Regions from separate parts of the Homo sapiens genome. Here all the other regions are linked to region 2. Evidence: fine-mapped expression QTL. A gene starts in region 2. Each other region holds a variant in brackets. All regions are shown on one strand. Distances are between the middles of the regions. Region 1 overlaps TNRC6A (trinucleotide repeat containing adaptor 6A). Region 2 holds the start of SLC5A11 (solute carrier family 5 member 11). Region 3 overlaps PRKCB (protein kinase C beta).

Evidence for each region.
Region 1: its variant is fine-mapped to the expression of SLC5A11 in whole blood (INTERVAL, PIP above 0.99).
Region 3: its variant is fine-mapped to the expression of SLC5A11 in uterus (GTEx, PIP 0.98).

What each region holds. Positions count from the first base shown.
Region 1 is chr16:24,814,588-24,825,047 of GRCh38, forward strand. TNRC6A (trinucleotide repeat containing adaptor 6A) reads left to right here. Exons shown (of 25, transcript NM_014494.4): 19 at 560-718; 20 at 2,229-2,369; 21 at 4,006-4,113; 22 at 5,552-5,773; 23 at 7,490-7,560; 24 at 8,287-8,426; 25 at 8,845-10,460. The coding sequence ends at 9,220. Among named protein-coding and RNA genes, the nearest start is that of SLC5A11, 26 kb to the right of the region's middle. RefSeq lists an enhancer at 8,225-8,725. The variant C/T (reference allele first, on the strand shown) is at 5,819.
Region 2 is chr16:24,841,821-24,852,280 of GRCh38, forward strand. SLC5A11 (solute carrier family 5 member 11) reads left to right here and starts at 4,143. Exons shown (of 17, transcript NM_001352248.3): 1 at 4,143-4,192; 2 at 4,412-4,618.
Region 3 is chr16:23,852,219-23,862,678 of GRCh38, forward strand. The region is part of intron 2 of PRKCB (protein kinase C beta); the gene reads left to right. Among named protein-coding and RNA genes, the nearest start is that of PRKCB, 21 kb to the left of the region's middle. RefSeq lists an enhancer at 1,302-1,391. The variant G/A (reference allele first, on the strand shown) is at 5,439.

The sequences.
Region 1 (10,460 bases), 27 kb before region 2:
TATTTTTAGTAGAGACAGGGTTTCACCATGTTGGCCAGGTTGGTCTCGATCTCTTGACCTCGTGATCTGCCTGCCTCAGCCTCCCAAAGTGCTGGGATTACAGGCATGAGCCACCACGCCTGGCCCCATCCTTTCTTTTTTAACAGTTTATTGAGATATAATTTACTTATAATTCGGTGTCTTTTAGTATATTCATGATGTTGTGTAGCCATCACCACAATCCATTTTTAAACATTTCTATTGCCTGAAAAGAACCCCTGAGCTATCATAGCCCTCCACCATACAAGTGTTTTAATGATTTGGAAATAAGTTTGTACTCATATTCTGGTCACTTAATGATGTTTATGCATCTCATAAACTTAAAATGAAATTCACAGTTATCATTTTCAGACATTCTTCAAATGCGATGTTAGAATCTCAATATAAAAGAGTTACTCTAGAGAACACAGCCTAGAGCCCACAGATCTAATAGAAAGTGTTCATGCTACATTTGAAAAGCTATAAGAAATAAATCTGTGTGTATTTTGCTCACATTTCTCTATTATTCTTCCCTTGTTAGGTGCTATTTCAAGTGGTTTCAGGCTGGAAGAGTCTCCATTTGTTCCCTATGACTTTATGAACAGCAGTACTTCACCAGCCAGTCCTCCAGGTTCAATAGGAGATGGCTGGCCACGTGCCAAATCGCCTAACGGCTCTAGCAGTGTTAATTGGCCACCAGGTAAAATTTTTTCTAACACTTTCTTTCATGAGACTGTGTTTCCATTAAGGTTTTGTTACATCTGGACTTACTACTGATGTAGCCCAGATCGGCGTGCTTAGACTGACGTGTGCGGATGAGAAGGAATGCAGAAGTGATTGAGGAAAAGTTAAGCATGAAGTCTTGGGCAAGTGAGTGTGTCAGCCTGTTACCTATGCCTTTATGCTCAAGCAGCAGAGGTAGAAGTGAGCCCCATTGACCAGCATGAAGAATTATATTAAAAACTTTAGGCTGGGCGCAGTGGCACATGCCAGTAATCCCAGCACTTTGGGAGGCCGAGGCGGGCGGATCACGAGGTCAGGAGATCGAGACCATGCTGGCTAACACGGTGAAACCCCGTCTCTACTAAAACTACAAAAAATTAGCCAGGCGTGGTGGCGGGCGCCTGTAGTCCCAGCTACAGGAGGCTGAGGCAGGAGAATGGCGTGAACCCGGGAGGCAGAGCTTGCAGTGAGCCGAAATTGCGCCACTGCACTCCAGCCTGGGCGACAGAGCAAGACAACAACAACAAAAACTTTAATTCGCTGTTTCTCGTAAGTTGTGTCAGGGAGTAACTTGCAGTATTTTCATTCATACATAGGAGTTACCAGAAGTGCTTCTATGGCCTGCTTTCTCCTACCTGAGTTGCAGTAGCTTTGTGATTTGTCTTAAAGCTTAAAGCACTTTTAAATGTTACTGTTTAAAAATAAACATGAATCTGGCGGGTACGGTGGCTCATGCCTGTAATCCTAGCACTTTGGGAGGCTGAGGTGGGCAGGTAACGAGGTCCCAGGAGATGGAGACCGTCCTAGCTAACACGGTGAAACCCCATCTCTACTAAAAATGCAAAAAGAAATTAGCCGGGTATGGCGGTGTGTGCCCGTAGTCCCAGCTACTCGGGAGGCTGAGGCAGGAGAGTGGCGTGAACACAGGAGGCGGAGCTCGCAGTGAGCCAAGATCATGCCACTGCACTCCAGCCTGGGCAACAGAGCGAGACTCTGTCTCAAAAAAAAAAAAAAAAAAATACATGAATCACAGCCAGGCACAGTGGCTTATGCCTGTAATCCCAGCACTTTGGGAGGCTGAGGTGGGAGATCACTTGAGTCCAGGAGTTCAAAGCTGCAGTGAGCTGTGATTGCACCACTACACTCCAACCTGGGTGATAGAGAAAGACCCTGTCTCAAACATACATACATATATATGATTTTTTAACACACACACAAGTACGTATGTGTATATGTTACGTGTGTGTGTGGGTATGTATATTCACATTCAGTGAGATGATTTCAGTTGTAAAAACTTGCAAGTAATTTATAAAGAATAGCTTCTATAATACTAATTGTATTAACTGAACCATCCTCTTAGAGTATTAGTGTAAATTGGAAAGTATTTGAGAGTTGCATAGGATTCAGGAATAAAGGTTTTGGATATTTATTAATGGATTTTAAAATGATGATTAAGCTTTGAACTAATTTTAAATTTCCGTTTCCAGAATTTCGTCCTGGTGAGCCATGGAAAGGTTATCCAAACATTGACCCTGAAACTGACCCTTACGTCACTCCTGGCAGTGTCATAAACAATCTTTCAATTAATACTGTGCGGGAAGTTGACCACCTCAGGGACAGGAACAGTGGTACGTAGGGGGTGCAAATCAATTTCTGAGTGACACTTAACACAGTTTAAGAATGGCTCATGTAGTACCCAGCTACTCTGGGCGACTGAGCCCAGGGTACTCTGGGATCACTTGAGCCCAGGAGCTTGAGGCAAGCCTGGGCAACATAGTTGTGGGACCCTGTCTCTTTAAAAAAGAAAGAAAACGAAGAAGAAGAATGGCAGACAGAATTCTCTCTGTTCCCATAGGTGGCTCTTTAATTTGGCTACTTTTTAAATGGTGAGGATTTTATCATCCCTTAGTATGGCAAATATATATATTAATTTAATAAGTTAACATAAAGGACCAGCAAACCTTTGCTTTCCAGCAGTTGTATTAAAGGAATGAAAAAACAGCAAATGAAGGTTGTTACTAACTTTATACTGAGTTACAAGATTATGGTAGTTTAAAAAATGGGTGTTTCTTGTAAAAGACGTTATATTATTATATATGCTTATATACTCTGAATATTGAAGGACTTTCATCTGGAAGAGCGAATTAGGCTGTCTTTCAGAGAGTAAGAATAAGACCAATTTAAGGATCCCTGCAGTCCAGATGTGCTTTTTAATTGGTTAGCAAATAAAATCCGATTACCTGCCACGGGGTTACTTTTCACCTCAAGGCATTTAGATGTGTTTCATCCATGATTTTGTACCAGAAGAGTGTTAACGAAATTAATTTTTTAAATATTAAAAAGTATTTTCTGTCTTTTTAAAATACCATCTATACCTTTAAACAGTTTATAAAGCACATGTGAAGCAGCCACCATGTTGCGTTAGACGTGTAATTTACAGAGGTAACAAGCAGAGAAGAGTCCTTAGCATTGTGAAATGGCTGGGTTTCACAGACAGCTCTGCCCGCTATGGGAACACTAAGCCAAGCATAAATTCTCATGGCGTGGGAGTTAGTGGAAGAATCCGATGGCTCTGAAAGTCAGTAGAGTTTGAATTTGGTGTTAAAGGAAATAGAACATTGAAGGCTTTGAGTGGAAGAATCTTTAAGATGGGGTAATCTGGCTGTGGTGAGCAGAGTGGATTGGGTTGGGAGACAAGCCAGGGAACTGGTGTAGTAATCCAGATGGTGGTCGGGTCTAGAGCTCAACTAGAGTAGTGGTCGATGGGGTTTTGAAAATGGAAAGCTACACCAGGTTTGGGAGCCTGAATATATCGCGTAATGGAGAAGGCTGAAGGGCCTGTTCACTAGTAGTGTCTGTGACCAGGTGCCTTAGAGAGCAGGATAGCCAGTAAGAAGTCACTGGAGCTCAGGGGCGAGTTAGCACCAAGACTCGAACCTCCTTTTTAGACCCAGTGCTGGGAAGCAGAGCCAAGTGCTGTCTTGGTGGCTGGACCCCATTGCTAGAGCGCATCCTCACAGCCAGTGAGGACAAAATCAGAGGGAAAATGCCTGTGCTGAGCCAAGGCAGAGACAATTGGCGAGCTCGCTCAGCATGCTCTTTTGAAGGCAAGAAGGAAGATGTCTCGGGCACCATCTTACCCTGAGTGGACCTGTTTCCTTTCTTGTGGCATACTGTTAGCTTTGATTTCTCTGGAAGCTTTTGCTTTTTCTGAACCTCCACGTCCCTTGCTCTGGTGGCTGATTGGACTCTTCCCCCACACAGGGTCATCCTCATCCTTGAACACCACGCTGCCTTCAACTAGTGCCTGGTCATCCATTCGTGCCTCCAACTACAACGTTCCCCTCAGCAGTACAGCACAAAGCACTTCAGGTGGGCCTCGCCTTCGCTCAGGAAGGGAGGGTTGGTCACAGCCAGAGCCGCGGCTGTTGTTTTAATGCCCTCTTCTTTCGTCCAGTCTTCTCAGGGAATTAGGAGATTCTGTTTGTGAGCCTGGGAAATTATTTTTAACATCCCTTACTCCTTTTTAAACTTACTGTACCCAGCAGTCATCTACTAAAATCAGTTTTCACTGAACAGCTCTCATCTCATCTCAGAGCCACAGCAGCTCTGTAATTAAATGTAATTTAATCCAAACTAGTTCTCAGACTATCTGCAGCGGAGGATCTTTAAAAAAAAAAAAAAATGCCAATCCTCATAGACTGATACTTTTGTAAAATACGGTAAACATGAATTCTGAATTGCTAGGAAAATGATGGCACACTTGAGAGTTACAGGAATGTCAGGTTGCTGTCTGTCTACATATGCGCACTCTGGATTTCTGGACTCGTCCTGCAGCAGATTAGTATGAAACTGTGTTGTGGTGGTCTCCTGGCCATACCCTGAGTAGCACTGACCTAATGCACACACACTTTGTAAGTGAAGTAAGAAAAAGAGTTGATAGTGATGGAAGACAGGAATTGTTCCACTCCTTGCTGTCCCCTCATGCTTTTAGCATGATAGTTGATGTGGTTTACTGTGTACCTGGTCCCTGCATACCCACTCATGTCTCCATTGCTGCGAGGCAGTGTGTGTCAGGAACTGGGCCTGCTGTCTTTTTCTTTCTTCCTTCCTTTCCTTCTTTCTCTCTCTGTCTTTCCTTCCTTTCCTTTCCTTTCTTCTTCCCTCCCTTTTTCTTTCTTTTTTTTTTGTTTTTTTGTTTTTTTGTTTTTTGTTTTGCCATACAGGCTTAGTTTTGAATCCTGGCTCTGCATTAGACCCATAAGCAAATTACTTACCCACTCTGTCTTCAGTAGACTGTGTCAGGACCACAGACAGCACATGCCAGGTGCCCAGCAGCCAATGCTCAGCACAGAGAGGCAGGCACCCCGTGAAGATCTCCTTTGGCAGCTCCTGAGTTGGGGCTCTTTTGCAGTCCTTTTTTCCCTGAGTAAACAACAAAGTTCTAAAATTCACTTAAATGGCCTTTCTTGAGTGACTCAATTACGGTTATTAAGAATTTCACAATTGCTATTTTAGAGCAATTCAGATTGTTTTCCATTTCAGTTTGAGTACAGTTTTGGACACTGGCCTAAGAATTTCATAGGTCTTACAGCTGTTAGTAACAGATCAATGGCTTGAGTGTTTGGAGGGATGGAAAGCAGTTTCCTTTGGACTGATTTTCTTTTTTGGCAGTTTAGTTGATTTGGGGTTTTAAAGTTTCTTTTGTTTGTTAGATTTGCTTTTTGTGGGAGAATGGATGTCATTATTTAAATTTCCTCCTTTCTTAAACATTATTCCTCCCCTCTCCATTTTTTCCCCCTTTGAGTAGCCAGAAATAGTGATTCCAAATTGACATGGTCTCCTGGTTCAGTTACAAACACCTCTCTGGCTCATGAGCTGTGGAAGGTCCCTTTGCCACCTAAAAACATCACTGCTCCGTCCCGCCCACCTCCGGGACTGACTGGTCAGAAGCCACCCTTGTCTACGTGGGATAATTCTCCCCTTCGTATAGGTGGAGGATGGGGAAATTCTGACGCCAGATATACCCCAGGTAAGATGCAGTCGTAAGGTGGGTTTCTGTGGTTTATTTGCTAAA[C/T]GCTAACCAGTACTAACAGTCGAGTTTAACAGAGACCTGAACGGTAAACTATTGCCTCACCTCCATCAGGGGGAATGAGAACTTCGGTAAACAAATGATCCACCCAAAGGCACACAACAGGCTGCAATAACATTAATGCATTAGGAAGCTCCATTGTCTCAGAAGTTCCTCAAGACTACATCTTAAAATGTGTAGGAACTTCCTGCTCATGGCAGGCTTAAACCACATCACATGGAGCAGAAGGCAGTATTGGGCAAGTCTGGGGAACATGGGAGCAGGCCATCTGGGCCTTGAAGACTAGGGGGGTAGCTTGGCCTGTATTAAATGGGGACATTTGAGAGTGAAAGAGAGTGCTGTTGATTAATCATACATGGCCAACAGGCATAAGCCAGAAGGCCCCGGCAGTCTGGTTCCTCTGCCTTTCCTCATTCTATAATGACTAACATTGGATTTGTACTGGCATCATTTCCTGCCTGTGCTGTCTCCACACCATACATATACACACACAGCCCCAGATGAGCCTAGCAGTTTCCCCAGTAAATACAGTCTTATCCTTCACTCTACCTTGCCTGCAAACTACCAAACATTCCCATCTTCAAGCTGAAAATGAGTAATAAAACCTCATTAATATTTTCTGATTAAATATGTAATTTCTGATCTTTAGACAGGTGATTGGCTGTAGGAAAACTTGCAGCTTTTCCTTTGAGTGCGGGTTAATTATAGGAAAAGAACACTAAAGTACGTGCCAAGCTGCTGAATGCAAGTTAACATAATTGGTGTGGTGTGAGTGGTTTTTGGTTTGGTGTGAGTGGTTTTTGGAGGCCGCAGACATCTGTCTGGATGCCAGCTAAGAGACTGGCAGCACACAGCGAGGGGCGCTAGTGAAAGTGGCCCAGGAACCCACCCCAGGGAGGCTTGGTGCAGTTGAGTGGAATTAGGAAACCTGTAGGAGTAAGCCAAGCGAACCGAGGGGCAGCCTCTGCCAAGGCCCAGACACCGGAGAAAGCACAAAGGCTCCCGTTGGAGTGATGAGAGGATTGCAGGGAGTGGAGGAGGATTCCGTGAGAGGTGGATAGGCCTGAGCTGTGTCATGGAATGGTCTTTCCCAGCACCTGAAGTGTTTGTGAGGTGCCTTGAGTTGCAGATGGGGTCAGGGATGAGGGCTGTACTCCCAGGGGAAGGGTGGATGCCACAGGGGTCCAGCAGGAAGGCCAGATGGGGAGCCCCTGCAGTAACCCCGGGGAAAACAAGGAGCATCTGTGCGATCGCAAGCTCTGGAATCCCCTTAAAGCTTCATGCCCTGAAGGACACACACGCAGAGTGATCAGACACTACTGAAGTCTTCCCCAGATGGTACCGTTTGAGATTATTTTAGCTCCTATCAATGAGAAGATCTCAAAAAGATGCAGCCTTTTGTGGCTCACTGCCCTCCTCTGTGGTGAACTGGGAGCCATTCTGAGCTCACTGTCGCCAGAGGCAGAGCCCCCTGCCATAGGAGTTAATGCCTGGCCATGGCTAGGGCGAGCTGAAATTCTGGGCCTAGGGAGAAAGCCTCCCATGTAGAAGTGCAAGGAAGTGAAGGAAGTCAAGAGGCCAGGTGATCTGCTAAGTAACTGTAGTTGGGCTCTTTCAGTCCTGGAAAACTGACTTGTCCTTTTTTTCCTTGTTTAGGTTCCAGCTGGGGTGAGAGCAGCTCAGGGAGAATAACAAATTGGCTTGTTCTAAAAAACCTTACACCTCAGGTAAGGATACCAGATACGCTGGTTTATGTGGCTACGCCAGGGAGCATGGGAACAGAGGTTCGGGTCTGTATGTGAGACAAGGGCTGCTAGGTGGTAGTGAAGCCGAGCAGAGGAAACAGCAGAGGAGTGGTCTGTAGACCTCAGGCAGGCTGTGGTCGAATCTGGTGGTTCACGCTGTAATGTGCCTGGGAACCAACCAAGCATACAGATTCCCAGGCCTCACCCAGAGATTGAGTCAGTAGATCTGGGCTAGGGGCTGGGACTCTGCATTTGTATGAGGGCCTGCAGATGAATTTGACACAGGTGGTCCTTGTTGGCACATGGAGAAATCCTGGTCTGCCCCTGAGGTGAGAGCATTTTCTTAGCCCCTGGCCTGCGCCCTCCTCTGGAGGCTGGGTGTTGAGCTCCCACCTCCCTCCTCCCTCAGGGAGCAGAACCTTGATGGATGCTGTCCTCAGGGCAGGGAAGAGAGAAGACATGGAGCCACAGTGGGGATCTGGGGAGTGTCCAGGAGTCTAGAGGCCAGAGCGGTATGGCTCTGGGAGCAGTGGAGGTGGGGAAGATGGCTCTGCACCCCGTCAGAGCAACGTCAGAGTGTCAGTGAAGAGTGGTGCCAGGAGCACAGAGCCTCAGGAAAGAGAGGAGGGGCAGCAGTGCAGCCTGAAACAGCCTCCTGGAGGGCCCGCGGTGACGCCTCTCACTGGCAGTTTCCACACTGTTTCCTAGATCGATGGCTCAACTCTGCGCACTCTGTGCATGCAGCACGGCCCGCTGATCACATTCCACCTGAACCTCCCTCACGGAAATGCTCTGGTCCGCTACAGTTCAAAAGAAGAGGTAGTGAAGGCACAAAAGTCTCTGCACATGTAAGTTGGCTGTTGGGCTCCCAGTTGGAAGAGTCTAGGGGAAGGAGTGTGAGAGCACAGCCTGACCCGGGGCAGTGCACAGGGTCCTGCGTGGGTGGCTCCTGCTGGCTGCAGTAGTGCCCTGATTCCAAGGTCGGCATTCCTAAGCGGGGAATCAGACCTGGCTAGATGGCCCTAGAAAGTCCCTTACGTTGCCCATGGCAGACAGAGGAAGTTCGCTCTGGGCAAGGCACCAGGCCCTGGAGAGCTGTGGGTGCACACTCGGGTGAAGGGAGGGCACGCAGGTTATGTGGTGTAGTCTCTCCCTCTGTGCCTTCTGTGGCTTTTCTAGCAGAGACAAGTTGCACCCTCACTTGTGAGTGAATGAAGCCCTCCTGGTGTGCTGTCCTCACGTGTCCGCGGTGCCTCTCTCCTCTAGGTGTGTACTGGGGAACACTACTATTCTTGCTGAGTTTGCCAGTGAAGAGGAGATCAGTCGTTTCTTTGCACAAAGCCAGTCTCTGACCCCTTCTCCCGGCTGGCAGTCTCTCGGGTCCAGCCAGAGCCGGCTGGGCTCCCTCGACTGTTCCCACTCATTCTCCAGCCGGACCGATCTCAATCACTGGAATGGTGCTGGGCTGTCGGGAACTAACTGTGGAGACCTTCACGGCACTTCACTCTGGGGGACCCCGCATTATTCCACAAGCCTGTGGGGTCCCCCAAGCAGCAGCGACCCCCGAGGAATTAGCAGCCCATCTCCCATTAACGCTTTTCTTTCTGTTGACCACCTGGGTGGGGGTGGAGAGTCCATGTAACAGTGTAGATGCAGACTCACCGACCGGGACCTCAGACGCGAGGGAAAGGAGCACTAAGTGGGGCTCGCCGCCTGCAGCCAGGGGCCGCCTGTGGGAACAGCTATTCTCTGCACATTTTCCACTTTGTTTTCCCCAAAACATATCAGTTTGAATACTTGAATCATGCAGGCCAATATTATAATGTGAAAAGGTATCTACTCTATTTACACTCCCAAATAGCGCCATACATGCTAAACCGTAGAGAATGAGCTCGCTTGTGTCTATTCATCATGTTTAGCCTTTGGATTCTTTTTTTTTTTTTCCTTCTATTCCTCCCCAACCCCCCCCCCCGCCCCTTTTTTTCTCTCTTGCAAAACCATTTTTTGGGCTGATAACGTATGAGCTTTTCCCTTTGCACTGAATGATGTTCTCTCCGTCTCATCGGCAGTATGGGGGGCAGCTGTCCCAGTGTCAATGTTTACTCAAGGGTGTTCTTAGGAGGCGTGCGCTCTCTACTATGCCTTGATGTTGCCTACCTTATTGTGGTATCGTGGAGTTTAAAAGATCAAGTTAGGATGCTGACTTAGGATTATTAATGAAAGTGTTGCACCAGTTTTTTCATGTTGTAAAACTAAAGAATTTCGCTCTGCAGTTTGAAAAACTGTGGCCACAGCTGTGACTTGCAGCCCACCTGCCACCCAGGACGGGCCCTGCACTTTGAATAGGCTTTCCATTTTGTTTTGGAGGTTCTCACTTTGAACCTTCTTGTTTACAGATTTTTTTGTTTGTTTTTTGAGAAAAAAAAATGTTTACTCTTCCATCATTTAAAAAAAATGTAAAAGACAAAAAAAAAATGGAGGATGATTTAAAAGATGCTTTCTATCTCTGGGAAAAAGGAGCAGCATTTGGCCATGTTCTTTTGTTTTTCTATTCCTGTCCCAAATCAAAGAGCATGGTTCTCAGGAAAACCAGTTCCCCAGTTTAAAAAAAAAAAAAAAAATTCCTTGTAGTTTCTTAGAGGAAAAAAAGAAAAACCCCAACTTTTAGCACTGATACTACATATTGCTCTGTTAAAGAATTTTCTCTGCCAAAAAAAAAGAAAAAACAAAAAAACGCTTAAAGCTGGAGTTTGACATTCTGCTTTCAGATGCTGTCTTTTTATTAGTGAGTGATGATGGTTTGCTAATAATCAATAGGTAATAATTTTTTGTAATCCCATCAAGTGGCTCCATATGTTTCTGCTCTCTCGTGACTGTGTTAA
Region 2 (10,460 bases):
ATTTACCAAACCTTACAAGTCATCAGAGTTTCTATTAAAAACAAAAACAAAAACAAAAAAAACCCAGACTTAGATTTCTCTTGCAAAAGGAATGCTGGCAACATAAGACCCACGTTCTTACGTGGTGACAATGGGCTGGAACTAAAATCTGGGAGACAGACTCGCAATAACTGTATTTGCTCAGTGTATTTGCTCTGTATGAATTCACTGTTTGTATATTTGCTCTTTTTTTTGAGATGGAGTCTCACTCTGTCACCCAGGCTACAGTGCAATGGCATGATCTCGGCTCACTGCAACCTCCATCTCCTGTGTTCAAGCGATTCTCCTGCCTCAGCCTCCCGAGTAGCTGGGACTACAGGTGCACCCCACCACGCCTGGCTAATTTTTGTATTTTTAGTAGAGACAGGGTTTCACCATGTTGGCCAGGATTGTCTCGATCTCTTGACCTCATGATCCGCCCACCTCGGCCTCCCAAAGTGCTAGGATTACAGGGGTAAGCCACTGTGCCCGGCCATCTGCTCTCATTTTTAAAGATATAATTTACATACAATAAAATGCATGAGTCAGCCAGGCGCGGTGGCTCATGCCTGTAATCCCAGCACTTTGGGAGGGTGAGGCAGGAGAATCACTTGAACCCAGGAGACAGAAGTTTAAGTGAGCTGAGATGGCGCCATTGCACTCCATCCTGGGTGATAGAGTGAGACTTGGTCAAAAAAAAAAAAAAAAGCATAAGTGTTCATCCTTCAATTCACGGGGTTTTACCAATTGTATATACCGTATAATTACCACCCAATTCAAGATAATAGAAATTTCCATCACCTCTGAGAGCACACTCCCACCCTCTTCCAGTTGTTCACTGGGTCCTGTTCTTTGACTTCTGTCACCACAAATCCATCTTTCCTGTTCTTGAGCCTCACATAAATTGAATCATAAGGTCTGTACTCTTTTCATGTCAGCTTTTTTTTTTTTTTTTTTTTTTTTTTTTTGAGATGGAGTCTTGCTCTGTCTCACCCAGGCTGGAGTCCAGTGGCGTGATCCTGGCTTACTGCAGCCTCCACCTCCTGGGTTCAAGCAATTCTCCTGTCTCAGCCTCACGAGTAACTGGGACCACAGGCGCACACCACCACAGCAGGATAATTTAATTTTATATTTTTGGAAGAGACAGCGTTTTACAACATAGGCCAGGCTGGTCTCGAACTCCTGACCTCAGGCGATCCACCCACCTCGGCCTCCCAAAGTGCTGGGATCACAGGTGTGACCACCGCACCCAGCCCAGGTCAGCTCCTTTTGCTCAGCATAATGTTTCGTAGAGTCTTCGATTCATCCGTGGTGTTGCGTGGGTTGGGTAGTTCATTCCTTTCGATGAAAGTTTTTCACGGTGTTGGATGCACCGCAGTTTGTTTCTTCACTCACCTGTCGATGGAACTGGTGTTGTTTCCACTTAGAAACAGTTTTGAATAAGGCCACCATGAACACTTGTGTGCACAACTTTTTGGGAACATATGTCTCCATTTCTCTTGATAAATACCTAAGAGTGAAATTGCTGGGTCATGGGGGAGGTGTATGGTAACTTTATTTATTTATTTATTTAATTTTATTTTTTAGATGGAGTTTCGCCTTGTCACCCAGGCTGGAGTGCAATGGCACGGTCTTGGCTCACTGCAACCTCCATCTGCCTCCCAGGTTCAAATGATTCTCCTGCCTCAGCCTCCTGAGTAGCTGGGATTACAGGGGCCCACCACAACACCCAGCTAATTTTTGTATTTTTAGTAGAGACGAGTGCAGGCTGGTCTTGAACTCCTGACCTTGTGATCCACCCACCTTGGCCTCCCAAAGTGCTGCGATTACAGGCATGAGCCACCGCGCTCGGCAAAGTGTATGGTAACTTTATAAGAAATGTCCAAATAGTTCTCTAAAGTGGTTATACAGTTCTTTTTTTTTTTTTTTTTTTTTTTGAATTGAGATCTCATTCTGTTGCCTCGAGTGTAGTGGCACTATCATGGCTCACTGCAGCCTTGAACTCCTGGGCTCAAACGATTCTCCCACCTCAGTCTCCTGAGTAGCTGGGACTACAGGTGCACACTGCTATGTCCATCTAATTCTTCCTATTTTGTGTAGAGATGAGGGTCTCACTGAGTTACCCAGACTGGCCTCTAACTCCTGGCCTCAAGAGATCCTCCTGCCTCAGCTTCCCAAAGCTCTGAGATGATAGCATGAGCCCCTGCACTCCACCTCTCCTATTCTTTATAGCACTGAGGGTAAAAATGAAAAACCTGACAGAGAAACAATCGGAGGTGACAAGCCAAGGGTCGAGCAGGCCACATCTGGCCCTCAAGGATGCGTAATCATGAAACTTTGCAGAACTTCTCTAGAACAATCAGAAGTTCTGACCCCATTGGGCCTGTCTTCCCCCACGTGGAGCTGGGTCGTGGCTGTCCTCTTCAGCTGGGACACATGCTCTCGGGTCAGCCTCAGCTCCACCTGCCCGGCTTCACTCACTACCACGCCTCTTCTGTAGACACCCTGCACATGGCTAAGGCTCCCCAGACATTCCCAAGAAGTCAGGACTGGACCCCAGGTTGGCGAAGCAGTGCACCCTCGGTGGCACCCCACTGCCTTTCCTGGTGCTGTGGCCTCTGCTGCAGATCACAGATTCATGGCCTTCTGTCTGTCCCTCTTCTCCAATCCCAGCTGTTCCTTCTGTAAATCTGTCCCCCAGGGCAGGTCCCTCCCCCAAAGGCCCCATTCATACTGGTGTTGGTCAGTCACCCAGTGTTTGCTCACCCAGGCCACCCTTTATCCAGTCAAGCCACCCTCCACTGCTCCTGCAGGACTCTAGAGCCAGGTGGCCTGGGCTGAAATCTTGCTGTGTCACTTACAACCCGGGTGATCCTGGGCCGATGACTCATCTCCTCTACCTCTGTTACCTCGTCAGTAAGATAGAGATAACAGGACCTAACTTCGAGGGTTGTTGGAAAGACCAAGTGAGTAAAGGCATGTTGTGCCCTTAGAGCCTGGCACGTGTTCATCACTGCTATTATTTCTGGCTACTCGGTGCCAGGACAGGGGCCTCAGCTGAGGGCCCCCCAGAGCCTGGCAGGCCCAGTGAAGGAGTGAGATGGGGAGGCCACGACTCCTCCCCAGTCAGCAGCTGTCCTGTGGCCATGGGGGCCTGGTGAGGCCAGATCTTCAGGTTGTTCTAGAAAAGTGAGTATTCTAGAATTATGTTTCAAGCCTCTTGGTTTGCAAATACTAGTAACTATTTTTAAAATGTTTTGGTATTTGGCCTGGCACAGTGTTTGACCCCTGTAATCCCAGCACTTTGGGAGGCCAAGGTGGGAGGATCACTTAAACCCAGGAGTTGGAGACCAGCCTGGGCAACATAGCAAGATTCTCTCTCTACCAAAAAAATGAAAAAATTAGCTGGGTGTGGTGGTGCACGCCTGTAGTCCCAGCTACTCGGGAGGCTGTGGTGGGAGGATCACTTGAGCCCAGGAGGATGAGCCTGCAGCAAGCTGTGATGCCACCACTGCACTCCAGCCTGGGTGACAGAGTGAGATCCTGTCTCAGAAATAAAAAGTAAATAAAGTTTTGGATGCTTTGAGCATCTGGCAGAAATCTTCGCTATGCCCCGCTGATGTCCTGGGCCCGATGTGGGCGCCTGGCCATGGCTCGGTCACTCCTGACGGTTTTTCAGGGCCTCAGACACCTCTTCTTCTTCTTCTTCTTCTTTTTTTGAGACTGATTTTCGCTCTTGTTGCCCAGGCTGGAGTGCAATGGTGTAATCTCGGCTCACCACAACCTCCGCCTCCCGGATTCAAGTGATTCTCCTGCCTCAGCCTCCCGAGTAGCTGGGACCACAGGCATGCACCACCATACCCGGCTAACTTTGTATTTTTAGTAGAGATGGGGTTTCTCCATGTTGGTCAGGCTGGTCTCGAACTCTCGACTTCAGGCAGACACCTGTTCTTTGCCATGCCTCTGTCTGAAGAGTATATGGAAAGGGGTTGCACAAGCAATGGTTGCTGTTCCTGTTGCTGCCACTGCGGTGAGGGCTGTGGCTGGACGTCCCTCCTGGCACTTTGCCTCTGTCCCCTCCATCCGCCGCCAGCATTTTTCCTCCCCTCCCCTTCCTCCAGCTCGTCCCAAGCCTGCCTGTCCCCAGCGTGGAGGCGGGACAGTGGAAGACTGGGTGAGTGAAGCAGGATGGTGCCTTGGGCTCCAGCGTCTCCCCAACCCCTCCATGCCATGGGTCCCCACGCAGGTGAGGACCCTGGTGGAGGACGGTGTGGGCAGAGCGTGGGACATGTCACCTTCCCCACCTGCTCAGAGTTCAAGGGTCCTGGGCTGGGCCCCGTTCTCTCTTCTGCCCTGGGGAGATCATTCACGCTTCCTTTAATCCCCGCTGCAGCTGAGGCTGGAGTTTGGAGTTTGACCCGCTTGGAGGCTCTCTCAGCAGCGGGCATATAGGAGGAAGGGTCACTGCTGTCTCCGGAAGCTCTTGGCTGCAAAGAGAGAGGATCCCGGGTATCTCCCTCCTTACAACCACCGCCACCTCCTAGTGCCTTAGAAGCCACTGACAGCCCCCAGGGCAGGTGAGCCCTGCATCTGGAATAAGGTAAGACACCCCCTGCCCCCAAACAGGTAGCCACTCTCCAAACTGGGAAGTTGGTCTGGGGACAGGTGCTGGCAGAAGGACTCCAGCTGTCACCTGTGGGGCAGGGGAAGCTCAGCCCTCTCTGCAGAGAAAGCTTGTCATACACCAGGACAATGGAGTGTGTTTGTGGGGTGGGCATGGTGGTATGAAGCCAGCAGCCGGCAGCCAGCAGCACCGTACGTGGGTCCCAGCTCTTCCACTTAACCAAGGTCAGGGACATTGAGCCAAACATTTTGCCTCACCGAGTCTCAGGTTCCTTATCTGTCAAATGGGAATATGAACCTCAGGCTGACCCACCCCACAGGTGTGTTACCCAGAGATAACGAAGGTAAATGTATCCACATAAGCATTAAAAAGCTATAGGAATGTATTTACTACAACTGCAGCTGCTGTTAACTACAAGGCAAATACAAGTCTTCACTGGTACGTGTCAGACACGTGCAGAGAACTTTACGCCTGGATCTCATCTAACTGACACAGAAACCCTGTAAGGTAGGTACAGCACCCCCTAATTCATGGACAGAGTCTAAGGGTCATTAAATAACTTGCTCAAGGTAATACAGATAGTGAGTGGCCAAGCCAAGACTCAATTCCTGTGGCCATGAGCTCAGCCACAATATCAGTGATTTTCTTTTTCTTTCCTTTCTTTCTTTTTCTCTTTCTTTCTTTTTCTTTCTTTTCCTTTCTTTTCTTTGTTCTTTCTTTCTTTCCTTCTTTCTTTTATTTCTTTCCTTATTCCTTTCTTTCCCTTTCTTTCTCCTTCCTTCTTTCCTTCCTTCCCTCCCTCCCACCTCTCTGTTTCTCTTTCTTTTCCCTTTTTTCTTTCTTTCTTTCTTTCTTCTCTCTCTTTTATTATTTATTTCTTCCTTTCTTTCCCTTTCTCCTTCCTTCTTTCCTTCTTTGCCTCCTCTCTCTCTCTGTGTGTGTTTTCTGTTCTCTCTCTCTCTCGTTTCTTTTCTGTCTTTTCTTTCACAGGGTCTCTCTGTGTTGCCCAGGCTGAAATGTAGTACTATCATAGCTCACCAGCATGCCCTGCTAACTTTTTTATTTTTATTTTTTGTACAAATGGGGTCTCCCTGTGTTGCCTTGGCTGGTCTCAATCTCCTGAACTCAAGCGATTCTCCCGCCTCAGCCTTGCAAAGTGCTGGGATTACAGGCATGAGCCACTGCACCCTACCAATCAGTGGTTTTCAAATGGTGTTCTGCTGAATTATTCTGGGCAATAGTTGACAGAAGTGTCCTAGCCCATTGGGCATCCTGCAGATAGGACTTGGAAAAATGCTGTCCCTTTTTTGGGCGGTCACAGCGTGCAAAGGATCTATAGCAAAGGCTCTAAAAATCCCACATTTATTTGTTGTACCAACATTTATTGCATGCCTGTTTTGGGGACACAATGAGAGTGACAGAGACATGGACCTTTCTTTATGGGGCTTGCTGTGCAGTGCAGACAAGGGGTAATCACACACATCAAGTGTTACACTTGATTAGACTGTGATGAGAAGTTGTGTTTGCCATGAAAGCAAAAAGCTTGGGGACCCAATTTATATTGAGGCCAAGAGGGGGCTCCTTTGGGGATATACAGCAGGCTGACATCTAAAGGATGAGTAGGAGCTTGTCCAGCAAAGAGTGCAGGGAAGAGCATCCCAGGCAGAGGGAACAGAATGGCAAAGACCCTGAGGCCAGAAATCGTGTTCCAGGAATAAAATGAATGCTAGTATGTGGTGGGGTTGGAAGCACAACAAAGCACCCCAGCAGCATGGAGATGTTTTGAGCAGGAAAATGATCTGATCTGACTCATACTTAAAGATTTCTCTGGCTTCCGTGTGAGGGGCGGATTAAAAGGAAGCAAGGCTGGGTGAGGTGGCTCATGCCTGCAACCTCAGTGCTTTGGGAGGCCAAGTTGGGAGGATTGCTTGAGGCCTGGAGTTTGAGACCCGTCTGGGCAACATAGCAAGACCCCGTCTCTACAAAAAAATTACAAAATAAGAAGTTAGCTGGAGGCCAGGCATGGTGGCTCACACCTGTAATCCCAGCACTGTGCAGGGATCATTTGAGCCCATGGGGTTGAGGCTGCAGGAGCTGTGTTTGTGTCACTGCACTTTAGCCCAGGCAACAGAGTGAAACCCTGTCTCAAAAAATAAAAAATTAGCTAGGCATGTTGGCATGTACCTGTGGTCCCACCTACTTGGGAGACGGAGGTGGGAGGATCCCTTGAGCACAGATGTTCGAGAGTTTGAGGCCACAGTGAGCTCTGATGGCACCATTGCACTGCGGCTTGGTCAAGGGAACAAGACCCTGTCTCTAAAAATTAAGTAAATTAAAACAAAAATAAAATAATAAAATAAAAAGGAAGGAAGAATGGATATCGGGGAGGTAAGACTGGAGGGTCTTTCTCTAACCTAGACAGAAGTGATGGTGGCTCAGACAAGGGTGATAGCACTAAAAATGAGGGAAAATGTGTGGATTTATTATGTTTTGGAAGTAAGAGAGAATGGAATTGGGAGTGAATAGATTCTGGGAGGTGAGAAAGAGATGCTATAAATTCTTCGATGAGACATTTACATACCAGGCACTCTTGGTGCTTAGATGTAGTGCCTGGCACATAGAGGTGCTCACAGACCACTTGATAAGTGAACAAATGGACTAATGCCTTATAGATGACTCAGGTTTCTGGCAGGAGTGGCAGAGTGGCTGCAGCTGTCATTTAGTGAGGTGGGGAAGACTGGAAGAAGCACGTGCTTGGGCTGGAAAGCTTGGTCTGTAACTCGCACGTGTGAACTTTCAGACATCTATTAAGTAACAATGAGAAGCCGGGCACGGTGGCTCACGCCTGTAATCCCAGCACTTTGGGAGGCCGAGGCGGGTGGATCACCCGAGGTCAGGAGTTCAAGACAAGCTGGGCAACATGGTGAAACCCCATCTCTACTAAAAACACAAAAATTAGCCAGGCGTGGTGACACATGCCTGTAATCCCAGCTACTCGGGAGGCTGAGGCGGGAGAATCGCTTGAACCCGGGAGGCAGAGGTTGCAGTGAGCAGAGATTGCACCACTGCACTCCAGCCTGGGTAACAGAGCGAGACTCTGCCTTGGGGGCAAAAAAAAAAAAAAAAAAAAAATATATATATATATATATATATATATATATCCATGAGAGATGCCACGTTGGCATTTGGATGGACAGGTCTGGGCTCAGAAGGTGCTCTGTGATGTCTATTCTCTCTGGAATAATGAGACAAGATCATCCCTGAAAGGCAGGTGAAGGACAACGCTCTGCCGGGTCCCCTGCACTCACTGGGCATATGCCCTGTTACCCTGCTGTGGACCATTCAGGGAACGCTGCCCTGCCCTGCCATGCCTAGAATTTATTTCCAGATACCTGAAGCCGTGGCTCTTGCTAACGGACTAGGGGTGATCCTGGCCTCTGCTTCAGCCTCAAATCCTGAGATGTCTTTTTAAAATTTTTTATTTTATTATCATTATTATTATCTATTATTTGAGACAGGGTCTGGAGTGCAGTGGTGCAATCACAGCTCACTACATCCTCAACCTCTTGGGCTTAAACAATCCTTCTGCCTCAGCCTCCCAAATAGCCAGGCCCACAGACACACAGCACCATGCCCAGCTAATTTTTAAAAATTTGTTGTAGAGGAGAAAAAAAAAAGGGTCTCACTACATTGCCCAAGCTGGGCTCAAACTCCCGGCCTCAAGCGATCTTCATGCCTTGACCCCCCAGAATGCTGGGATTATAGGCATGAGCCATTGAGCCCAGCCAGGATCTGTCTTTTTGGCCTTTTTGTAGAGATCTCTCTGTTTCTATGAACCCCATGGCATCAACGGGTGGAGGAGGCCAGGGGTGGTCATTTAGCTCCTTATTCCTGCAGTTCTAGTCCCAGACAGCCCTTCTCTGCCTTCCAGGACTGACTCTTTTCCTCTTGTAGGGCTGCCTCCACTAGGCTCCCTAGACCCAGGCCAGGCCAGGGCACAGCTTGCTGCAGTGCAGCAGGCAGTCAGCGCCACTGCAGCCCAGGAGTGGTAGGAAAGGGTGCGAGTGGCTTCCAGCCTGGGTGATGAGACCCGTGCCAGTCCTTATCACATCTGGAATTTTCCCCACCAAGGTCCACGTGTCTCGGGGTAGTTAGGAGCTCTAGAGTTAAACCTGGGTTGGAGCCCTGCTTCAGTCATTTACTAGCAGTGTGGCCTTAGACCCGGCCTCAGCTTTGTTTTCCTCACCTGTACAATGGAGTTAATCAGAGTCCTTGTAGGGAGGCTGTGACTTCAAAACATGATTCATGCACATATGTGGCCAAGGTTTGCCTAACCACAAAGTTTATTCGTTTTTTTTTTTTCTTTAAGACAGAGTCTTGCTCTGTCACCCAGGCTAGAGTGCAGTGGTGAAATTTCAGCTCACTGCAACCTCCACCTCCCAGGTTCAAGCGATTCTTCTGCCTCAGCCTCCCAAGTAGCTGGGATTACAGGAGCCCACCACCACGCCCTGCTAATTTTTGTATTTTTAGTGGAGACAGGGTTTCATCACGTTGGCCAGGCTGGTCTCGAACTCTGGACCTCAAGCAATCCACCTGCCTCAGCCTCCCAAAGTGCTGGGATTACAGGCATAAGCCACTGCACCCGGCCTAGTTTATGCTCCTTTTATTTTTATTTTTATTGTTTTTAGAGATAGGGTCTCACTCTGTCACCAGGCTGGAATGCAGTGGTGCAATCATAGCTCAATGCAGTCTCAAACTCCTGGGCTTGGGCCCAGGGCAGTGGCTCACGCCTGTAATCCCAGCACTTTGGGAGGCCAAGGCAGGCGGATCACCTGAGGTCAGGAGTTCAAGACCAGCCTGGCCAACATGGTGAAACCCCATGTCTACTAAAAATACAAAAAAAGAAAAAAAAAATTAGCCGGACGTGGTTGCAAACGCCTGTAATCCCAGCTACCTGGGAGGCTGAGGCAGGCGAATCGCTTGGGGGCAGGAGAATCGCTTGAAGCCAGGAGGCAGAGGTTGCAGTGAGCCAAGATTGCACCACTGCACTACAGTCTGGGGGACAGAGTGAGACTTCATCTCAAAAAAAACAAAACAAAACAAAACTCCTGGGCTCAAGCAATCCTCCTGCCTCAGCCTCCCAAGTCATGCTTTCTTTAAAAAAAATGGTTTTATAAAATGGACGGGGAACAGAACAAGTACTCTGTATTTAATCACATTACACATACAATGAACATGCCTACTGCTTTTTACAAACCTGTGACGTATGTCTAATTATTAACCTCATTTCGTAGATGGGAAATTGAGCCTCAGAGAGGTGACTTGCCCACGATGAAGGAGCTCACAGGAGGCAGAGCTGGGATCTGAGTCAGGGCGGTGCAGTTCTAAAGTATTTACACTTTACGCTTTATCACGACATATCTATTTCCTGGAGAGTCTGTTGCTCATAATTAAAATTTGTAATTAGTCATTGTCATTTTCATTCAGAGCAGGGAACTTCCCTTGCTTCTCTCTCTCTCTCTCTCTCTCTCTCCCACTCTATCTGTTTCTCCCCCGATTCCTGCCACCCCCTCTAATGTGTTTGATACTCATCTGGAAATACGCCTGCACTCTGGCAAAATAGTACTATTTTGTGTCTTTGAGTGCTTTGGCTTCATGCTATAAATTGTGCTCTGTTTATTTCCCTCCTTTTTCTTTCATTATGAAACGTTTCAGACACACAGAAGTTATAAAGAATCACGCACATCCAGAAGCCAGCCTAAGGCATGAAATGCGGCAAATACAATCACAGCTCACCTTCCCACACCTGTGACCTGGG
Region 3 (10,460 bases), 990 kb before region 2:
TGAGAAGGATGTTAGCTACGGGTTTGTCATAATAGAGCCCATAGTGTTTATTGTGTTGAGTGCATTTCCTTTATACCTTATTGCTGAGTACTTTTTTCATGAAAGAATGTTAATTTTTTTCAAGTGCTTTTTTTTCCTGCATCTATTGAGATGATCATATGATTTTTATCCTTTATTTTGTTAACATGGGTATCACATTTATTGATTTCTATGTGTTGAACCATCCTTGCATCCCAGGGAGAAATCCCACTTGATCATGGTGAATAAAATTCTTTTAATGTGTTCTTCAATTTGGTTTGCTAATATTTTGTTGAGGATTTTTCCATCTATGTTCATCAGGGATATTGGTTTATAGTTTTCTTCTCTTGTGTTTTTGTTTGGCTTTGGTATGATAGTCTTGGATAATGAGTTTAGAAATACTCCCTTAATTTTTTGGAAGAGTTTAAGAAGAATTGATTGACATCCAGATCAAGAAACAGAACATGCTGGTACCCTAGAAGCATCATCTCACAATCCCTATCAACCGTATCCTTCAGGAGTAATCACTATCCTAACCTCTATCACCTATGATTACTTTCATCTGTTCCTGAACTTATGCCCACTTTTCTGTTATGCAACTCCATTGACTTATGCCCATTTTTCTGTTAAAAAATTTAAAAAGTGCAGAGCTTTAAGTTACTGAGGCTGAGCCTGAGAAATGTTAGCTGGGACTTTTTTAGTTTTGCATAGAGGAAGTGAAATCCGTATGGGAGACAGGCACCTTCTGGAATCACCCATTGGGGAATGGTGCCGTTTGCCTTCTTTGGGGAACATCTGCTTCCTGTTTCAATGTTGCCCATCGGTTCCAGACTGTTCAACAAGGAAGCCAGGGCATTCTGACAGTTTTTCCACACAATAATTTAGCTCTGTAAATACTAGGAAAACTTGAGCTCACAAACTATTTTTAGGGCTTAACATTTCAAAAATTCTGTATTAGTAAGAATCTATTAAAGCTGCTGTAACAGACAAACCTTGAAGTCTCTGTGGCTTGACAGAAGGGAGTTTATTTCTTACTCATGTCACTAACCAGTGCAGGTGGTCCTGGTCAGGACATCTTCCACAGAGTCACACAGGACCCCAGGGTCCTCCCCATTGGGCCAGTGGAAGGGGAAAGGGAAATTGAGAAAGCACACTCATTTCACAACAACTTCAGCTGGGGAAGGAAGTCACATCACTTCTGCTCACATTCTATTTGCCAGAACCCAGGCAAAGAGGCAACCAACGGAAGGGGGTCCTGGGACATGTCGACTAGCTCTATGTCCAGGAGGAAAAGAAAACAGGTTTTGATGAACTCAGTAAATCTCACTCCAGTCTCCAAAGCCATAATTTCCTTTGTCTTTCTTTGCGGTGATGTATCTAGTTTTATCTCTCACTTGACTGGTAAAACTAAGATGCAAAACTCTGGACGTCTTTATCTTATCAAACATAGCAGGGAAAGAGTGAGTTCTATTTGTGTTCCTAAAAGTGAAATAAAGAAGCACTTTTCTTGTTTTTAGTTATTAGAACAATCTGGCTCTTGTCAGACTTTCTAGTTTTTCAATCAGTCAGAATTCTTGCCTCTCTGGTTGCCTGTTGTATTAATCCATTCTCATGCTGCTAATAAAGGCATAACTGAGACTGGGTAATTTATAAAGGAAAGAGGTTTAATTGACTCACAATTCAGCATGGCTGGGGAGGCCTCACAATCATGGCAGAAGGCAAAGGAAGGTCAAGGCACTTCTTACATGGCAGCAGGCAAGAGAGCGTGCACAGGGGAACTGCCCTTTATAAAACCATCAGATCTCGTGAGACTTATTCACTATCACGAGAACAGCATTAGAAAACCCACCCCCATGATTCCATTACCTTCCGCCAGGTCCTTCTCATGACACATGGGGATTATGAGAGCTACAATTCAAGATGAGATTTGGGTGGGGACACAGCCAAACCATATCACCTGTGGACATCCCAAGCAGATCTCTTTGAGGCCGGGTTAGTTCTCTTCTAAGCTGACTTGTTATATAGAAGAATCCTTTGTTGGTTCTACTTCCAGATATTTGACTGGACACCCAACAAATCAATTATCTATTGCTGGATAGCACATAACCTCAAGGCTTAGTGGCTTAAAGTAGCCACTGTTTTATTTAGTTTTAGTTTCTGTGGGTCAGTAATTTGGGCTGGGCTCAGCTGGGTGGTCTGTCTGATCTGGGCAGGGATTGGCTGTTCTTGGCTGGGCTCATTTACCTTCCTGGGGCCTCAGCAGGGATGTCTAGGACAACTGGGGCCTCTCTTCAGGTCTTTCATCTTCCAGTGGGCTATCCTGAGCATGGTCATATGCTGATGGGTGCATTCTCTGGGCATGAGCAAGGGCTGCAGGGCTTCTTGAAGCCAAGGCTCAGAACATGCATAACATCACTTCTGCCATATTCCCTGGTCAAAGCAAATCACAAGCCCACCCCAGAAGTAAAGGAGGAAATAGAGAAGAGAATAGAGATGCCTCCTCTTGATGGGAGAAGCTGCAAATAATTTGTGATATTTTTTGGAACCCACCACACTAATTTCAGTGTGGTCCTCGCAATTGCTTGGCTGTCTAAAAACATACTCCAGTCTAGTGTGCATTTCTGAAAATGAACTTGATCAAAGGCAGGCCCCAAATGAGTGCTCAACATTTACACCTGATAATAATACTACCTACCTCCTAGGGAAATGGTAGGGCCAGATGAGATGCTGTATGCAAAGGATACGGCCAGGACTTAGTGCACACGCAACACTGAATACTACCACCATGACTACTGAATACTGCCATCAAATACTACCGTTACTACCACTTGGCACTCCCTAAAAGCTTGAGATTCAGAGAAAGGAAGACAAAGCCCCTGTACTTGAGGAGGGAGAGAATAAAGAGAGCCGGCGGGGGAGGGGGTGGCAGGAGAGAGAGAGAGAGAGAGGCGTGTGAGTGAGTTCTTGCAACACAGTGTGGTCAGTGTGATCACAGAGCTGTGATGGAGTGCGGATGAGGTCTGATGACTTACTGGTCAAGAGCATGGGTTCAGGCCTCAGTTCCTCCCCAATCACATGTGGGGTCTTAGGCATCTTTCTTTTTAATCTTCAGTTTCTTTGTCTGTGAAATGAAGATAATGGCACAGAGCCTACCTCCCAGAGTTCTATGTGGATTAAATGAGACAGGCAAACAACAACAAAAACCACAAACAAACAAAAAACAAAAATGAAAACAAAAATCATGTGATTGCTTATTAAATGTTAGTTATAGAAAAAAATATAAGTTCTTAAATGTGCCCTTGTAAAAATGTCCTAAAGACCTCATCTTTATTTAGTTCTTCTGCAACTCTGGCTAGCATCATTGATAAATTGTCTTAAAAGATGAAGATTTGTATGCAGGTGGTTTATTGGGGATGTAGCTCTTGGGAACAACATCTATAAGGGATAGAGGGAAGCAGGGAAGAGGTAGTTGAACTGTGGTGCAATAGTTGTAATAGAGGCCAAAGCCAATTCCATGGCTGGAGCTGAGACGGCCCTTCAGAACTGGGACAAGCCAATGCATCAAGTGGGCATTGATTGTGGGCTGCTCTTTGGAAGGCAGCATTACCTTGGGCAAAGCAGCTCCCTTCTTCAGGGGAGGAGTCCCAGGGAGGACACAGCTGTGAGCAATTGGTTTTCCCAGCAGCTGGGGGAATGAGTGCCTTGTCCCTATAGATGGTTTTGAGGGGGCTGCATTTGGGGGAATGCCTTCTGGGGTTCACTGCGTGCTTCTATGTCTTTCTTAGAGGTTCATTTCAAACTATACCTTGGTTCATTCACAGTACTGATTTAGTTACTATCCAGATTCATAGACTGTACTTGCTGGCACTGGAATATCATGGACAGAGAGTCCTAATCTGACTAGGCCTAGGGAATGACATGGGAATAGCTTGTCCTGGGTCATCCAGCTACCAGAGAGGAGAGCTGGGATTCATATCCAACCAACGATACTTTATACCTCACATTACTTCTGTTATGCTACACACTCCTGAGTCACAGGAGATTCCAACTTGTATTTCAAGCCCAGACTGCATGACTTCAATGTCCTGTTGCCCTTAACCCCTGTATCAGATTGCAGCCCCACTCTGGAAAGTTTTCTTGAATTCTTCTATGTATGTTTTTTAAACTGTGGGTCATCACTCATTAGAAGTTCATGAAGTCAATATAATAGGTCAAGAATACCATGAAGAAAGCAGAACAGAAAATATCACAGTGCATCACTCTCAGGAAGGGTAGATATTGTTTCACGAAACTTTTTTTTTTTTTGAGACAGGGTCTTTGTCTGTCGCACAGGCTGGAGTGCAGTGGTACAATCATAGCTGACTGTATCCTCAACCTCCCAGGCCCAAGAGATCCTCCCACCTCATTCTCATGAGTAGCTGGGACTTGAGGCACATGCCATCATGCCTGGCTAATTTCTAAAACTTTTTGTAGAGATAGGGTCTCCCTATGTTGCTCGGGCTGGTCTCAAACTCCTGAGCTCAAACAGTCCTCCTACCTTGGCTTCCCAAAGTACTGGGATTATAGGCATGAGCCACTACTCCTGGCCTCATACAATTTTTATTTGATATAAACATATATAGCCATGAGTGAACTGGGTCAAAATGTAAAATGTGTCTCTTACTGCAGGTAACTGTCAATGTAGTTCGAATATCACTGTGAAATATATAGAGAAGAGGCTCTGGGGGCTCATGAACTTGGCCCATGGACTGTTGAGGCTTTTTTTTTAATCTTTAGAGATGATATAAATGTAGTGCTTTGAATTCTTTATAATTAGAAGTTTTATTCTTACCCCATCACCATGTCCCAAGATAATTTTTATTATCATCTTTCAGCTTTAACATATCACAGACAAAAGTTATTTTTCCAAATAGAATTTTAAGTATGGTATAAGAGGTTTTTAGAAATGGAATGATTGGTTTTGGCGGAACTGCCTGGCCTGACCTGTCACTCGGGTGAAGTGTCAGAGAGCTGTGTCGAATGCTGGCGGAGAACTGTCCCTCTCCTGCAGAGAGAAGGAGCTGCTTATCCTGGGGGATAATGTGGGTTGAGAAAGAAGTGTTTTATGAGCAGAATCAGCACAGAGGGAGGGAGGAGGAGGTGTTTAGGGGCTGCAGAGAGCCGCCAGAAGATGTGGGAACAGTATGCCAGCACGGAGGTGGGTCAGATCCCCATGGTGGGACTCTGCTGAGGGTTGCCTCCAGCCGAGACTTCCAAGGGCTGGGATTCAGTGTGTGTTTATGTTCTCTGGTGTGCCTGATAGGTGGGGGCCCACATGACAGCTGGCCTCTCTGTGTTTCCCTTCTGGCCGTCTCTGATTTGGGGCCCAAGGGCCATAGGGGGGCCAGGGCACTCCAGATGGGACGAAAAGTCAAGTCCAA[G/A]AAAAAAATGAAATCCGGGCTAGGCTTGTCCCTGCTTGAGGATGTGAGAGAGAGAGAGAGAGTGTGTGTGTGTGTGTGGGTGTGTGCGCACGTGCGTCTGCAGTCCCTAGAAGGATCTCTATTCATTGGACAGAGAGGCCAAGGGAATTTTCCATTTCCTGGATGTCTTCAAAGATTTCAAATGCCATTAACTTGAGCTGACATTTATTGAGTACTCACTCGGTGACTGGCACTGTTCTAAGTACTTTACATGTATTAACTTATTTAATCCTCACAACAGCCCTGTGTGGCTGCTACTGTTATTGTTGCCATTTTATGCTGAGAAAACAGCACAAAGAATTGAGAAATTTTTCCAAAGTTACAGTTAGGATTCAAAAATAGACTTGGTTTTAGGATTGTGTAACTTCAGAATTGATGGTGACAATGACGTTGATGATGAGGATGATGATGATGATGATGAAGGCAGCTAATATTTCAGTGTCTGCAATGAGCTGGGCATTTTCACAAACTTTATCCCTTTGAATCTTTACCTTCCACTAAGATTTGCTGCTATTCTTATCCCTTTTGTAGATAAGAAAGCAAGCTTAGAGAAGATAAAACATTTGCTTAAGTAACTGCAGAGCGTAGATTGAATTCAGGTCCATTCGAGTCAGACTGTCTGTTCACCAAGGTGAAGGGCTCCGGGGGTCACAGAGGAGCACCATGGTGAGGAAGGCCCCGTAAGAGTGTGGCAGAATGGCAACCAGGAAGGATCTGGTATACGGGATGGTGATAAGGCCCATCTCTCATGGCCAGGAAAGTGTGCCTGCCACAGCAATGAATGAAACTGGCAACATTTGACAGGAAGGGGAAATTCTCTAGTGGGAGGAATACTTCCATCAAACTGTTTTTTTTTTTTCCCAGTGGGGGAGTTTGCACATGTGTAGATTTTTTTAGCCATAGCCTTGAATAAGGAATTCAGAAAGTGGCTTCTAGTTTGAGGACTTTCATTGGCCACGTGATCACAGTAGGCTGATTTCTTCATGCCTAAGTTACCAGGCTGGGAGGACAGGCTGAGAACTATGCAAGCTGTTGAGTCACTTGGAAGGAAGAGGGTTACATACAGCAGGCACTTTCATGGAATAATACTTCCCTGAAGAGCTGCACTAATTTATTGAGGCACTGAGCTGGATGCTTCACACACATGATCTCATTGAATGTCCACAGCACCCTAGGAGGTTGATCTCATTATTAACTTCATGAAGTGACTGAGGCTTAGAGATATTAAATAGCTTCCAGCCTGGGAAACATAGTGAAACCCCATCTCTGCAAAGAATAAAAAAAAATGAGCTAGGTGTGGTGGCTCGTGCTTATATTCACAGCTACTTAGGAGGCTGAGGTGGGAGGATCCCTTGAGCTTGTGAGGGTTGAGGCTGTAGTGAGCTTTGATGGCACCACTGCACTCCAGTCTGGGTGACAGAGTGAGACCCTCTCTCTAAACAAACAAATCCCAGGAGACATTAATTAACTTGCCACTGGTCTCTAAGCTAAGTAGTTGAAGAGGGCAACAAACCCAGGTGGTCTGACTCCTAGGCTTGAAGGTCCAGGTTCAGCTACTCCACCAGTATCCCTGGTCAGTCTTTGGCCAGGGCACAGAAGGTGGCATATCAAGTTGTGGGGTCTGATTTGGAAAGTGTGAGATCCCTCCTTTGTATCTTTTCCAAAGTCCACTCAGAAGAGAGTAGTGTAAAAGGAGTGATAGCACAGCGTGGTCTGGCTGGCATAGTCAGCCGCCCTGTGATGGGCAGGGGGAAGCTGCTTTCTGTCCTCAAGCAGCCCCTAAACTTGTAGGCCAGACTCATAAATCACACATTGATAACTCAGTGTGATGTGTGCTGTAATGGTGGAGAGGGGGGAGAAATGCCAGGAGCAGCTCACCTCCCAGGGTCCTGGGGAGGCTGCACAGAGGAGCCTGAGTTCTCAGTTGGGTTTTGAGGCAGAGGAAGCAGTGAAAGAGAGAGGAAGAATGTCAGTGAGGTGCGGGGAGAAGCAAGAGAGAGAAGACACTTGGCAGGAAGAAGTAGTTGAAGTACCCGGGGATGTTTAGCTTGAAGAATAGAAAATTTGGAGGAGGCAGAGAAAAGGCAGGAAACTTTAAAAGCAGGAGAGAAAGACCTCCAGGTTCCCAAAGGGAGCATGGCACTTCTCAAGGGGGTGAGGTTGACAGCATTAGGAGAGAGAGAGAGAGAAAGAGAGAGAGAGAAAGAGAGAGAGCGAGAGAGTTGTCAAGGAAGGGAAGGACCCATGGAGGGGAGAGCACAGGTGAAAATGAGAAGTGATGGGAAAATGGGTGGGAAATAAATGAAGTTTTGAGGCCAGTTGAGAAATCTTGCTTGGTGGTTTCTATTTTCTTTGTGAAGCAGAAAAAAAGAGGAATTAGACAGACCTGCATTCAAATCTCATGACCCCAGGCAAATTTCTTATCCTTAGCTTCTTCATTTTGAAAAAGGGGTGAATGATAATAGGACCTACCTAATAAGAGTTGTCAGGATCAAATATGTTAGTGCTTGTGTAAGATGCAGTGGCACCCTGGCACTTAGTACCAAAAAAAAGTACTATAAATGTTGTCACCTATTGAGGGAGTCCGGGTTTGGGTGCTTGATACATAGAAATATCATGAATAGCAGCAGAGAATACAAGAAGAAGAGAAAGCTTGGGGGAGAAGATAGAGAATTATGCGTTGGGTATGTTGAGGATGAGGTGCCTGTGCCATATCCGGGTGTAGGTGCCCAAAGGCAACTGGAAGTCATGAGAAGTCAGGGATAGAGGTAAATGTTTGGGAGTTGTTAATACAGGGGTGCATTTTTAAAATATCTGAAGTATGTTACTGGTGGCACTCAAAGATTTTTAATGATGTAAGGTATTCAACAACATGGAACTACGTAGTTTTAAAAGAAATTCTCTTGTAGGCCGCGTGTGGTGGCTCACACCTGTAATCCCAGCACTTTGAGAGGCCAAGGTGGGTGGATCACTTGAGGTCAGGAATTCCAGACCAGCCTGGTGAACATGGTGAAACCCCATCTCTACTAAAAAAAAAAAGAAACAAAACAAATCAAAACAAAAAAACCGGGCATGGTGGTGTGTGCCTGTACTCCCAGCTACTCGGGAGGCTGAGGCAGGAGAATTGCTTGGACCCGGAGTCAGAGGTTGCAGTGAGCCAAGATCGCGCTACTGTACTCTAGCCTAGGCAACAGAATGAGACTCAGTATAAAAAAGAAAAAAATGTTTTTTTCTTTTAATTCTTCGGGTTAAGGAGAGTGTCTTAGTTTGGTGCTATCATGTCCTAAACATCTTTCTAATGCATGCAAATCTCCCTTTTAAGCTAAAAGAATGAAGCAATCTCAGACTCAGAGCTATGTACCTGCTAGAATTTAATAATTTAAATTTTCATTGTGTTCTTCATACTCACCTTCTATTTATAGCAAGTGTTACTAGCTCTCCAATTCTGGAGGTTGTTTCAGATAGGATGCATTAGTTCTTTTTTTTTTTTTGAGACAAGGTCTTGCTCTGTCACCCAGGCTGGAGTGCAGTGGCACAAACACAGCTCACTGCAGCCTCAACCTCCCAGGCTCAAGCAAACCTCCCACTTCAGCCTCCCAGGTAGCTGGGACTACAGGCATGTCCCACCATTCCTAGCTAATTATTTTATTTTTTATAGAAACAGGGTCTCACTGTGTTTCCCAGGCTGGTCTTGAATTTGGGCTCAAGCAATCCTCACACCTCCGCCTCCTAAAGTGCTGGGATTACAGGCATGAGCCACCATGCCTGACCTGCTTTGGTTCTTAAAAACAGAATATCTGGCGAGCCTAACAAGGAGGCTGGTGGTTCCAGGGTTGGTTTAATCAAAGACTTAACACTGTCATCAAGCGCCTCTCAGTTATTTGCTCTGCCATCCTCAAAATGTGATCAGTGTCTCCCTTCTTGGTCCCAGGAAGGCTGTGATAGCTCCCAGAATCACATACTCACAGGGCAAAGCAGGAAGGAAGGGGACATAGGACAAAGGATTTGTGTTTAAGTATTTCATGTCACATTTGCATGTGGTGCTTGGAGCTGTGGCAGCTATGTTTTGACCATGAGGGACAAGGTTGGCAAGCTGTAAATGGCAGTGTAAAAAGAGGGAGAGGATCTGTCTCCTTCACAATATCCTTGAGCCCCTGAATTCACTAATCTTGATATAGCTCTATCTCTTGAAATTTTGTTTTGTTAGATAATTCTCTTACTGCTTAAAACGTCTTAAGATGGGTTTTCTGTTCTTTCCAGTAGAATGCATTGTATCTCACACAATTTGAGGTTATTGCCTCAACCTACTCTGAATCATTGCTCCTCCCCCTTTTTTCCTGGTTGATTAGCTTCTCTTGAGATTGTGTCTTATCTTCCTGGTTTTTTGTATGTCGGGTAATTTTGGATTGTATCCTGGACACTGTAAGTGTTGTGCTGTGGAGACTCTGGATTCATTCGTATTTCTCTGAAAAGCATTGATGTTTTTGTTTTAGTAGGCCATTGACTTGGTTGGACAGTAGACTGTCTCTGGGACACCAGCTCAGATGTCAGTTCTGTTTTTTATTTTATCCTTGAGTCTTCTTTGGGACTGCCCCATGCATGCATGGTTCAAGAGTCAGCCAGACATTTGGGTGGGGTTTAGACACAGAATTTGGGGCTCTTCTCTCTTGGCTGTCTCTATTATGGAATTCCTTCCTCACTTTCCAGAAGCCGTGAGTGACCTGAAACCTGTCCTCTGGTTCTGTACACCAGAAAGACTTGAGGCTTCATGTTGAAGTTTTAGCTGACAGCAGCTTGCGTTCAGGGGAAAAGCTGTAAAATGACCATTCCCTTCTTCCAAGTTTCAACCTCTCTGCAGAATCTGCTTTCTTTTGTTCACTTTCGAGTAATTTCAGGAAAAAATTTTTTTTTCGTTGAGAGTTTTTACTTGTTACCTATGGAAAGGTTGGGTCTAGCTGAAGCTTGCTTGCCCATAACAGAAAC